Linked DNA regions of Homo sapiens. The protein of the gene in region 3 purifies or fractionates together with the protein of the main gene of each other region. This does not show direct contact. Each region holds a gene or a part of one and is shown on either strand. Other genes may lie near its edges. The genes, in order: SPSB1, SPSB4 and ZFPM2.

The links.
Region 1: the proteins of ZFPM2 (region 3) and SPSB1 purify together in Homo sapiens (affinity purification with western blotting; one study listed by BioGRID). This does not show direct contact.
Region 2: the proteins of ZFPM2 (region 3) and SPSB4 purify together in Homo sapiens (affinity purification with western blotting; one study listed by BioGRID). This does not show direct contact.

The regions. Positions count from the first base shown.
Region 1 is NC_000001.11:9,299,345-9,302,995, forward strand, and holds part of SPSB1 (SPRY domain-containing SOCS box protein 1), read left to right. Parts: intron 1-3,651. UniProt on the Homo sapiens protein: Substrate recognition component of a SCF-like ECS (Elongin BC-CUL2/5-SOCS-box protein) E3 ubiquitin-protein ligase complex which mediates the ubiquitination and subsequent proteasomal degradation of target proteins.
Region 2 is NC_000003.12:141,064,715-141,068,365, reverse strand, and holds part of SPSB4 (SPRY domain-containing SOCS box protein 4), read right to left. Parts: intron 2,415-3,651; 5' UTR 2,262-2,414; coding exon 1,568-2,261; intron 1-1,567. UniProt on the Homo sapiens protein: Substrate recognition component of a SCF-like ECS (Elongin BC-CUL2/5-SOCS-box protein) E3 ubiquitin-protein ligase complex which mediates the ubiquitination and subsequent proteasomal degradation of target proteins.
Region 3 is NC_000008.11:105,800,787-105,804,437, reverse strand, and holds part of ZFPM2 (zinc finger protein ZFPM2), read right to left. Parts: intron 3,392-3,651; coding exon 900-3,391; 3' UTR 1-899. UniProt on the Homo sapiens protein: Transcription regulator that plays a central role in heart morphogenesis and development of coronary vessels from epicardium, by regulating genes that are essential during cardiogenesis.

The DNA.
Region 1 (3,651 bases), on a different chromosome or scaffold from region 3:
ATATCATACTGGGGCTGGGCACGGTGGCTCACTCCTGTAATCCTAGCACTTCAGGAGGCCGAGGCAGGAGGATCGCTTGAACTTAGGAGTTTGAGACCAGCCTGGGCAACACAGTGAGACGTCATCTCTCTCTCTCTCTCTCTCTTTTTTTGAGATGGATTTTTTGCTCTTGTTGCCTAGGCTGGAGTGCAATGGTGCAATCTCGGCTCACTGCAACCTCCGCCTCCCGGGTTCAAGCAATTCTCCTGCTTCAGCCTCCTGAGTAGCTGGGATTACAGGCATGCGCCACCACACCCAGCTAATTTTTTGTATTTAGTAGAGACAGGGTTTCACTATGTTGGTCAGGCTGGTCTTGAACTCCTGACACCAAGTGATTCACCCGCCTTGGCCTCCCAAAGTTCTGGGATTACAGGCATGAGCCACTGCGCCCGGGCCGACATCATCTCTATAAATTTTTTTTTTTTTTAAATTAGCCAGGCATGATGGTGTGTGCCTGTGGTCCCAGCTACTTGGGTGGCTGAGGTGGGAGGATCGCTTGAGCCTAGGAGGTCAAGACTTGCAGTGAGCAGTGATTGTGTTACTTTACTCCAACCTGGGCAACAGAGTAAGACCCTGTCTCAAAAAAAAAAAAAAAAAAAGGGTCTCATGCTGGTCCATTACATTGATGTCATCATGCTTCATTGGACCTAGTGAGCAAGAAGTCGCAACCACTGTAGCCTTATTGGTAGGACATTTACATGTCAAGCGATGGGAAATAAATTCTACTGAAATTCGGGGACCTTCTCCCTTAGTGAAATTTCTCGGGGTCCAGTAGTGTCAGGCCTGTGAAGGTATCCCCTCTAAGGTGAAGAATAAGTTGTTACAGCTTTCCTCCTGCAACCAAGAAAGAGGCACAATGCCTCGTGGGCCTGTTTGGACTTTGGAGGCAACACATTCCTCATTTGGGTGTGTTACTCCAGCCCATTTGCTGAGTCACCCTAACGCTTCTAGTTTTGAGTGGGGCCCGTAGCAGAAGACTGCAACAGGTCCAGGTTGCTGTGCAACCTGCTTTGCCACTTGGGCCACCAGCAGATCCAGTGGTGGTTGAGGTCAGCGGCAGACAGGGAGGCTGCTTAAAGCCTTTGGCAGGCCCCTGTAGATGAATCGCAGTACAGGCCTTGGGATTTTGGAGCAAGGCCCTGCCATCATCCACAAATAACTTCATTCCTTTTGAGAGACAGCTCTTGGCCTAATACTGGACCCTAGTAGAGACTTAATGTTTGACCATCAGCCACGAAGTTGCCATGTGACCTGAGCTGCCCATCATGAAGTGGGTGTTATCTATGATCTGACCGACCAAACCAGACATTGGGCATGTGTGGCAGAACGCTGCCATCGAGAGGAAGTGGTATATATGGGATCAGGTCTGAGCAGGTCCTGAAGGCACAAGTAAGTGACATGAGGAAGTGGTCCAAAGGCCCATGGTTCTTACTTTGCCCACTGCCTTCTCTCTCCAGCCTGTATCTATGGTCTCCTGGGGAGTTCCCTCTGATCGATTGACAGTGGAAGAGAAGACTTAGTCAGCCTGGTTTGCAGATGGCTACAGATGGCTCTGCACTATATGAAGGCACAACCCGAAAGTGGACAGCTGCAGCACTATAGCCCCTTGCTGGGACACCTCTGAAGGATGGGGGTGAAGGGAAATCCTCCCTGGCAGAGCTTCGGGCAGTGCACCTGGTTGTGCACCTTGCTTCGAAGGAGAGATGGCCAGATGAGTGATTATATACTGATCCATGGGCTGTGCCTGATGATTTGGCTGGATGGTCAGGGATTTGGGGACTTGGAAAGAGTATGATTGGAAGATTGGTGACAAAGAAAGCTGGGGGCCTGGCATAGTGGCTCACACCTGTAATCCCAGCACTTTGGGAGGCCAAGGTGGGAGGATTGCTTGAGCCCAAGGAGTTCGAGACCAGCCTGAGCAACATAGTGAGACTCCCCGCCCCCGCCATCTCTACAAAAATAAAAAATTAGCTGGGCGTGGTAGCTCATGCCTGCAGTCCCAGCTACTTGGGAGGCTGAGGTGGGAGGATCACTTGAGCCTAGGAGGTTGAGGCTGCAGTGAGCTGTGATTGCTCCAGCCTGGGCAACAGAATGAGACCCTGTATCAAAAAACCCAACCAAACAAAAAAGCAATTGGGGGAAGATGTATGTGGATAGACCTGAGTGCGCACAGGACACGGATAGACCTCCCGAGTGCGCACAGGACATGAGGTATGTGGGTAGGATGACCTAGGTGGATTCTCGTCAGCCTCTTTCCCTGGCCACCCCTGTCATCGCCTGGTGGGCTCAGGAACAAAGTGGTCATGGTGGCAGAGATGGAGGTGATGCATGGGCTCAGCAGCATGGACTGCCACTCACCAAAGCCGACCTGGCTATGGCTACCACTGGCTGCTAGTCTGCCAGAAGCGGAGACTAACACTGAGCTCCAGTATGGCCCCATTCCCCGGGATGATCACTGCACCTGGTGGAAGGCACATTGGACCACTTCTGTTTTGGAAGGGGCAGCGTTTTGTCCTTACTGGAGCAGGCACTTATTCTGGATACAGATTCGTCTTCCCTGCACACAGTGCTTCTGCCAAAGTCACCATCCATTGATTGACAGAACACCTTTCCCACTGTCACGCTGTCCGTGTAGCACTGCTTCCAGGGAGCTCACTTCACAACCAAGGAAGTGTGGCACTGGGATCATGTGCAGGGAATTGGCCGGTGAGCACGAGCCCACTGGTTTCGCCTATCATGCTAAGTGGAACTACGGTCTTGTTATTGCCTTTATTTGGAAATTAAGTATGGTTTAAGAAGATGCCAGTGGGTGCCTATGGGTGCCAGTTGGTAAGGGGTGGACCTGTGATGATTGATTTTGGATGTCAACTTGACTAGATTAAGGAATACCCAGGTAGATGGTAAAGCATTGATTATTCTCTATGCTTCAGTACACACTGAGCCTGTCCCTTTTCTGCTGACAGGGAAGCCCAGTGGTTTGACATTGTGTAGAATGATCGGGCTGCCCCAGATGTGTCTGTGAGGGTGTTTTTGGAGGACACTGGCAATTGAGTCACTCAACTGGGTGGGGAGGATCTGCCCTCCATGTGGGCAGGCACCATCCAGTCAGCCGGGGGCCTGGAAGAAGGGTGAATCCTGGCTCTCTGTCCCGGAGCTGGGATGCTCTTCTCCTGCGCTTGGATGTCAGAACTCCAGGTTCTCTGGCCTTTGGACTCTGGGACTCGTACGAGTGGTCTCCGGAGTCTTTGACCTGGGACTGGGAATGACCACGTTCCCCACCATCCTGAAGCAGCTGACTTGAAAGAAGGGCAGTAGAGTCTTTTGAAGTTGCAATTACAATGCCAGCTAGGTGACAATACTTTGTAGGGCTGGGTCAGGGGTCTTCAAAAGGCTCTATGTACTCTGTATCAGCATCCAATATATGGTGCTGGTTTCTCCCGTAGCCAGGATTCACGGGTCCAGGAATCAAGGGGAGGAAATGGGAGTGGCACTGCGCATCATATCCCCTAGGGACCCGCTAGCGAAATTGTTGCTTCCTGTTCCTGTGACTTTATGCTCTGCTGGCCTGGAGGTCTTGGTTCCAGAGAGAGGAATGCTCCTACCAGGAGACAC
Region 2 (3,651 bases), on a different chromosome or scaffold from region 3:
AAGGCACTGTGATGACTAAATTAGCCCTTCTCAGGGACATAATCATCAGTTCCTAGATTTAACCCATTAAACAGAGAAAATGGAACAACATTTTGCCATTCAATGGCAATTGTAGGCAACAACCACGGAAATAAAATATGAGCAAGAATGTCGACAATTATGCCAGAGTGCTGAGCATACCAGCAGCCACTTTTCCATTAGCCTGCCACCCTTGGAAACCATCAAATGTCCCCTTCCTGTGCTCCAGTAAATGTAAATTTTGCTTGAGTAAAATCTTGTCCTTGACTTCTTTTCTGGAGAAGTGTTACTCTTTTCTGGAGTGTTACTCTCAGTCCCTCATCTAAAGGGGAGAACATAGGAAACGAGTGGACTTCAGGGCCATCAGAACTGGGGGGAACCCTGATTCTGGCTCTCTGTAGCTCTGCTCTTAAGTTTTCTTATTTCTAAAAGGAGGATCTGCCTCAGGGGCTGGTAATTACATCTCTTATTTAGAATGAATAAACTGGAAATTCTAGCTTTCAGCGCCACCTCTGAGAGCTTCATTGGGGTGTGGCAGGAAGTCTGGATTGGTGCTAGTGGGCTGATGTTGGGGAGTGTGCAAGCCCACAAGTGCCTGGCTCCTGGCCCCTCAGCTGGGATTCAACTCAGGACAGGCAGCCACGTGTGCCTCTGTCCAGAGGCCACCCTGTCTCCCTGAGTGACTCCCTCCCAAAACCAATAACCGTCTTTGTTCCTACACTTTTTATCTTGCCGGATGGTTGTGTATATTAAATGAGAGGAAGCCATAGAGTTGTCAGGGGTCAACCCCAGCAGCTTGTGGGCTGGTTTGTAGCCTGCAAGGGTATTTTGTTTGCCCATATAGACTTTTCAGCAGCTGTCAACTTTAAAAATTGGAACAGTTCACACAAGCTAGATTTCTGGGCTCTCTTGGAAAAAGTCACAAGATTCCACAACCCAGGGTTTTCATTCCCGTGAGATGACAGTCGGCTGGAGATAAGAGGCAGCTGTCCCCTTTAATAGTTGGCCCATAAGCGCTGGAATTGGGGTGTTCAGCCTCTCAAATACAGTAGATGGCCAATAAAGGACGGTTATCAGTACTTATTACTTATCAATAACTTGAGTACATGGCATTTAAGTGCAGGGACTGGGGACTTGTCACTGTCTTCCCATTGTGACTAGCTTGGGTCATTTGGTACAACCTTTGTACAGACTGGAAGATTGGTAATTGGCATCAACACTCAAAGCCCCTGTTGGGTGCCAGTCACTGTTCTGAGCACTTCACACATGTTATCTAGATCTTCACAACTGTGAGCTAGATTACTATTACTTTATTTGATCGTTACAACTGTGAGCTAGATTACTATCATCGTGATGCTTTTGCCGATGGGAGAACTAAGGCACAGCCCCAAATCACCAAGCCAGCAGAGAGTCAGGATTGAAACCCAGGTCCTGACCATTCCTCCACATTGCAGGATCCTCCCAAGTGGCGATGGAGGTGTGGCCTGCCCAGCTTCCCTAGGGCCTGGCAGCCTCTGAAAGCCCTGCCCCCCAGCCCAGCACAACTTACGGTCAAGGCCGTTGATGTAGCGCATGGTGACTTCACAGTGGCCCCACACGGCACTCACCACCGGGTACAGCTTCTTGCCCTTGAGACCTCGGAAGGCCACGCCCAGGTACTGGCCATCCACGATGAAGCTGAGTGTGCCCTCATCCATGTCCAGCACCACGAGCAGCGAGTCGGGCAGCGCAAAGGCCTCGTCGGGCCCCAGAAAGGCCGGGTAGGCCACGCCGGGCTGGTTCTTGCCGTCGTGGTAGAGGCGGCTGCGGCCCAGGTCCCAGCCCCACGACTCGGCGTCACTGCCTACCAGCGCCGTGTAGCCCACGGAGTGCAGGGGAGCACGGGCCGTGGCCACACCAACTACAGCGTGGGTGCCGCGCTGCCGAGCCGGCCAGTTGATCTGCCAGGCGTGCAGGCCGCGGGCGTGGCCCACCTTGCCGCGGATGCCGTCGGTGCTCTGGGCCACGGGGTGCCGGTGGAAGGTGAGCCGGTCGTCGTCCTTGACGAAGACGTTGAGCGAGCGGTCCTCGGGGTTCCACGCGTGCCGCAGCTGCACAGCCAGCCCCGCCGCTGGCATGTCCAACAGCTGGTCCAGCCGCGCCGGCCGCCCGGGCTCTGCACCCCGCAGCTCCCGCTTGGCCGGCCGCAGCGCCGGCTCTCGCACCTCCACTGACTTGAGGCTCCCCGAGAGCTTCTGGCCCATGCTTCACTGCGGGGAGGAGGCCGCTGCAGGCCACCGCTACCTCGTGGGAGCCTCCACTCCCCGTAGCCAGGAATGGGCCACGGGGCTGGGAACCAGGCTTCCGGACGGTAGACCTCCACAGCCTCTACCGGGCTGCGGCAGGGGCCCAAGCTCCTGGAAGGAAGCAAAGGGCACGGGTTATAGCAGCAGCATCAGCAGCCAGTTGCCAATCCCTTCATTTATGTCCATGCCTTGGCTGAGCCCTTTGCATGCACAATAATAGTAATAATTCGTACACTCATATCTGGCACTAATCTAGCACCTGCCATATGCCAGTGTTCTAAATTATTTATGTTTATTAGTTTGTTTAATCCTTAACATCTCCCTATAAGAGATATACATTATTATTCACAATTTACAGATGAGAACACTGAAGTCAGAGAGAGGATAAGCGATTAGCCGAAGTCCCACTGCAAATAAGTGACTGAGCCAAGATTCAAACCAAGGTCATCTGGCTTCAGGGTCTGTGTTCCGGACCTAGAACAATCATAGGGAGTCTGATTTTAGAAATAAGGCGTGAGCCCAGAGCAGTTGTGACTTGCTCAAGGTCAGAGCCTGGATGAGAACCCAGGTGCTTTTGATCCCAGGGGACAAGCCTTGTGCCAAGGCTGGGGGGCACACAGCTGCTCAAGACACAGGGCTGTAGGGTGTGGCCCATTGGTTCCCAACCCTGGAGTCCTGGGGAGCCTAAATAACCTCCTAAAATGTAGCCAGGCTTGAGCGGCAAGACACAGAACAAGGTGCAGCAGGGTCACCAGGGACATGGACATCAGGCAGCGTGGGAAGATGGGGTGAGAGCTCCATGGGAAGGTGAATGGAGGTCAATAGAGGTGAGGAGGAAGGATAAGGGAGCCGGTGTCCAGGCTCTGGAGCCAGACAGAACTGCGTCCAAATCCCTCTCTCCATCTCCTACTGTGGGTCCACAGGAAAGCCTCCTAGCCTCTTGGATACTCCAGATTTCTTGCCAGTAAAAAACATGAGGATAAAACACCTCCCTCTGGTGATGGGGGAACTTGAGAGACCATAATATAAAGGGTCCTGGAACTCTGCCGACAGGTTTTCCTCTCTGGCTCTGTTCTCTGGGCATCCCATGTGGATCCCCTCCCTTTGGATGGGTGAGCTCTTTGTTCGATCAGGTAAATACCATTAACAGCACTGACCCCAGACTGCCTTCCCTGAGACAGGATCCTGGTTTTCATGGAGAAGGAATTGGCCACCATCACTAGGAAACCAGACAGAACCCAAGGAGCTCGGACTACTTGGACGGGCCCTGGGTATGGAGAGAGATGGAGAGCCAAGCCCTGTCCAGAGCAGAGGCGTGTGCCCTCCCCTCCCTGGCCTGAGAGCTGCT
Region 3 (3,651 bases):
ACCAGGTGCAGTATTGCTACTCTTATATTTAAATAGATCTTATATATGAATTAAATTCATACTTGCAGCATTGAGTTTAGGGTTTCGATTTAGACTGTGCCTTTCAAAAGATAAAACTGATTAATACTACCTCATTACTTACAATACTGCTTCCAGTAATTTTGTTCATTCTTTATAAAGTATTGCATTTAACAGCAAAGGTTTAAAAATTGAGACAGAGCTGCATCAGCGAAAGAAAATACAAGTACTATACAAGAAAAAAATTGCCATCTTCATTTAACATACAGGTTCAGGATTAAGAAAATGGACGGAAACATACAGCTACATACAAATGCAAAGCCTAGTGACTAAGAGACTGTATCTGCTAAAATATAAAGTGCAAACAGAGCCTGATTATCCAAGAATTGAAATCTTAAGGCGAACTTATAGCATGTGTATTTAGAACATCTTTGCAAGTTATATTTTAGCATATACATATATCTGCAACAGCATATAAGAAAAAATCAAGATACACAAGTGCTTTTGAAGCTATTTCTAAAATGCTTTTCTGTATTGTGACTATTTTCTTTAAAAGCTACTATACAGTGCAAACCATATGTGCTACACAATAACTATACAATAACATTACAAATGACTTTAATATAAAGTTTTTAAATAAAAAATAACATAACCACAGCTATGAATACTGCTGGTAAAATAAATTAATTTTTTTGAAAATGGCACCAATAATACACTTTACTAATGGACTGTAATGAAATTACACCTTAAGTCTTCAACTCAGCCATAATGAATTATCTCCTGATTGCCCAGATGTAATTCAAACAGCTTATTTTTTTTTCTGGACTGGTTAGAACAACATACTAAACACTGATACCAAAGGTGACTGATGTTTAGTTAGTTCATTTGACATGTTCTGCTGCATGTGATGAGCAATAAAACTTCTTGTGAGTTATAAAGTTTGAAAGGTTGTTGAACTGGATATCACATAGCCGGCAATATTTCCCACTGGTTGGAGCCTGGCTGGAACCATTCACACCTTTTGCTATACTAGACAACTGTTCCTCTGCTGAGGGAATTCCTGGTGAGACATTCTCATTGGCAGCTAATGGGTTCTCAGAGATCCACGAGGGAGATTTGTGGTCGTCTTCGTGCTGAGGATTCTGGGAAATGTTCTCTTGCTGTGGGTTGGCAGCAGGTCTCTCATCTTGTTTCAGTCCACCATTCACTATTACCATTCCTCGATTTTTGGGCAACAATGGCAGAGAATCTTTCTTCAGCGCAGCACACCCATTTGAGGAAGCCTGGCCTTTAGGAGATTCATTTTCTGCATTTCTGCTTTGCTCGATGTCAGTGTTATGGATGACAAGAGAACCAGAAATATAATCACTTGGCTTGATTCCATAATATGGAGAAAGCTGGTCGGCTCCTTTTGCTTTCTTTATTGCTCCAGGGTAAAGGCATTGTGGAAGAAACAAATGTCTGTTTTCTTCTTTTGTAGCAATGAGCTGAGCAGCTTCACTAAAGACCTTCAAGCCTTGCAGGGTTGCTAGGTGGGATGAAAATAAGTTTCCATTGGGGGAAGGCTGCTTCAAATTCCCATTTTTCTCACATTTTATTATGCTTCTTTCGTAGCTGACATCAGGGCTGTTTCGTTCGCTTTCTGGATTCGGAAACACTTTGCCGTCCAGTTGACCCAGGTCATTACGCTGATGTGCAGTAACCGGGCAGAAATTCTGCTTGTGGGCCAGATAGTTTTCTACCTTATTGAAACTGATCTTGCACACAGTGCACTCGTGATAGTCCAGCAGCCTTTTGGGAGACGTGGTCGTCCGCTCAGACTGAGATAAACACTTTTTGCTGAGATCTATGGGCACGTCCATCTCTAGGCAGGAAACACTGGAATGAGTAGTATCACATTTGGAAACTGGAACACACTTGTTGATCGTCAGAGAAGTTTCCAAGTGTTTAGAGACAATTCCTGGAAAGATATCACATCTTGGGTGGTAGCACTCTCCTAGCCCTTCTGTGGGTTCTTGAGTGGAGGTACAAGGATTATTGAGGTTGGCTACGTCAAGAAATCTCTGCTGAACCAGTGGAGGCCTTTGTTCCTGCTCAGGTAGGCACATCTCATACATCTTTCTGCGCTTGCGTGTGCGCATGGTTCTCTGCATGGCAGGCACTTTGTTGGAAGCAGACCTCTTCAGTGGAGGGTCGTGGCGTGTAGCACAGTAATACTGTTTGTGGACCATGTATGTTTCGTGCCGGCTGAAGGTAATGTTGCAAGCTTCACAGGTAGTCTTATTTGGGTCACTTTCCCCATCCACTAAGGGGACACTGGGATTTTTCACATCAACAGGTTTTCCATTAATTTTGTCATCATTGTTACTGGAGGTGGAGAGCTTCTTAGTTTGAGTGGAAAAGTCCTTGTCATGGCCCTTCCCATTTGGCCCAATTAAATCTAAGACAGTGGAAGAATTGATGCAAGATGTTTGAAGAAGTGGATTCTCAGGATCAGCAGAATGAGCAGCTGGGTTGAGAAGGTTTATGGAGGTTTGGCCAGTGTTGGGACTCAAAGCTTCAGGCATCTTTTCTGACACACTAGGGAACTCTGGGGACTTAGCCATCTGCTGCCATCGGCTGCTGCAATAATGCTTTTTGTGCACTAGATAATTATCCAAATTATTGAATGTTATGTTACACTCAAAACAAGTAGCCCCCTTGGGCATCAAAGGGCTGTAAATGACGGGAGGGTAGCTACTACTGCCATGCCTCAGTCGCCGATGCACCAGTTCAGACATCTTAGCTAAGATCTCTGAAGCTTGAGGGACCATGGTGATATCTTGGGGGAAAGAAAACTGAGATAGGAAAGGGCCCACAGGGAAAGAAGGCCCAATATTAGGCTGAACTGGAGATGAGGCAAGTCTTGGGCTAGAGGGCTCAGACTTTATTTTTGTGTAAGAAAAGCTTTGTTTATTTGTTGTAGGCTGTATCTCTGGTCTCTGGTTCGTGAGAAAGAGCTGAGTCTTTTTCTCACACTTGTCCAGCTCTGTGTCAGAGCTCGCATCTTTAGTCTGCATGGCCTTTTGGCTCTGGGGAAGTTCGCTTCTGGTCAATAAGTCTGTGGCTGGCTGTAAGCTGTCTTCAGTTGCACTTGGAGAGTGTTCCATGTCACTTTCTCTGGGAAGTTTGCCGCTAGGGACATGGAGCTCCTGGTGCTGCAATAACTCCCTCTGAGTCTGGAAGCCGAAATGGCAGTGATTACATCGGAAGGCAGCTTGAGTGAGATGGGAGAACAGGTGTTGGTGAAAGTTGATCACGGAATCAGCAGTGTAGCTACAGACGGTGCATTTTAGACTAGCACCAGGGGGCAGGAATTCTTCCATTTTCACTCCTAGAGAGACATACAAAATAAGAACAATGAGAAACATGTGTGTTGGTTTTTGAATGACAGGGACCTTTTCTAATGACCTAATGTTTGCAACACAATAGGAATGAAATCTTTCAAAATTTCATTCGTGATATTAACTGTTTTCTTGTGACATCTCTTACTGTGTATGATAATATTAATAGCACTTTATAGTTTTCAAAGTACTTTCATGAATATTATGGCATCAAAGTGGAATAAGTGTCAGTGTCTCCATTTTATAGATG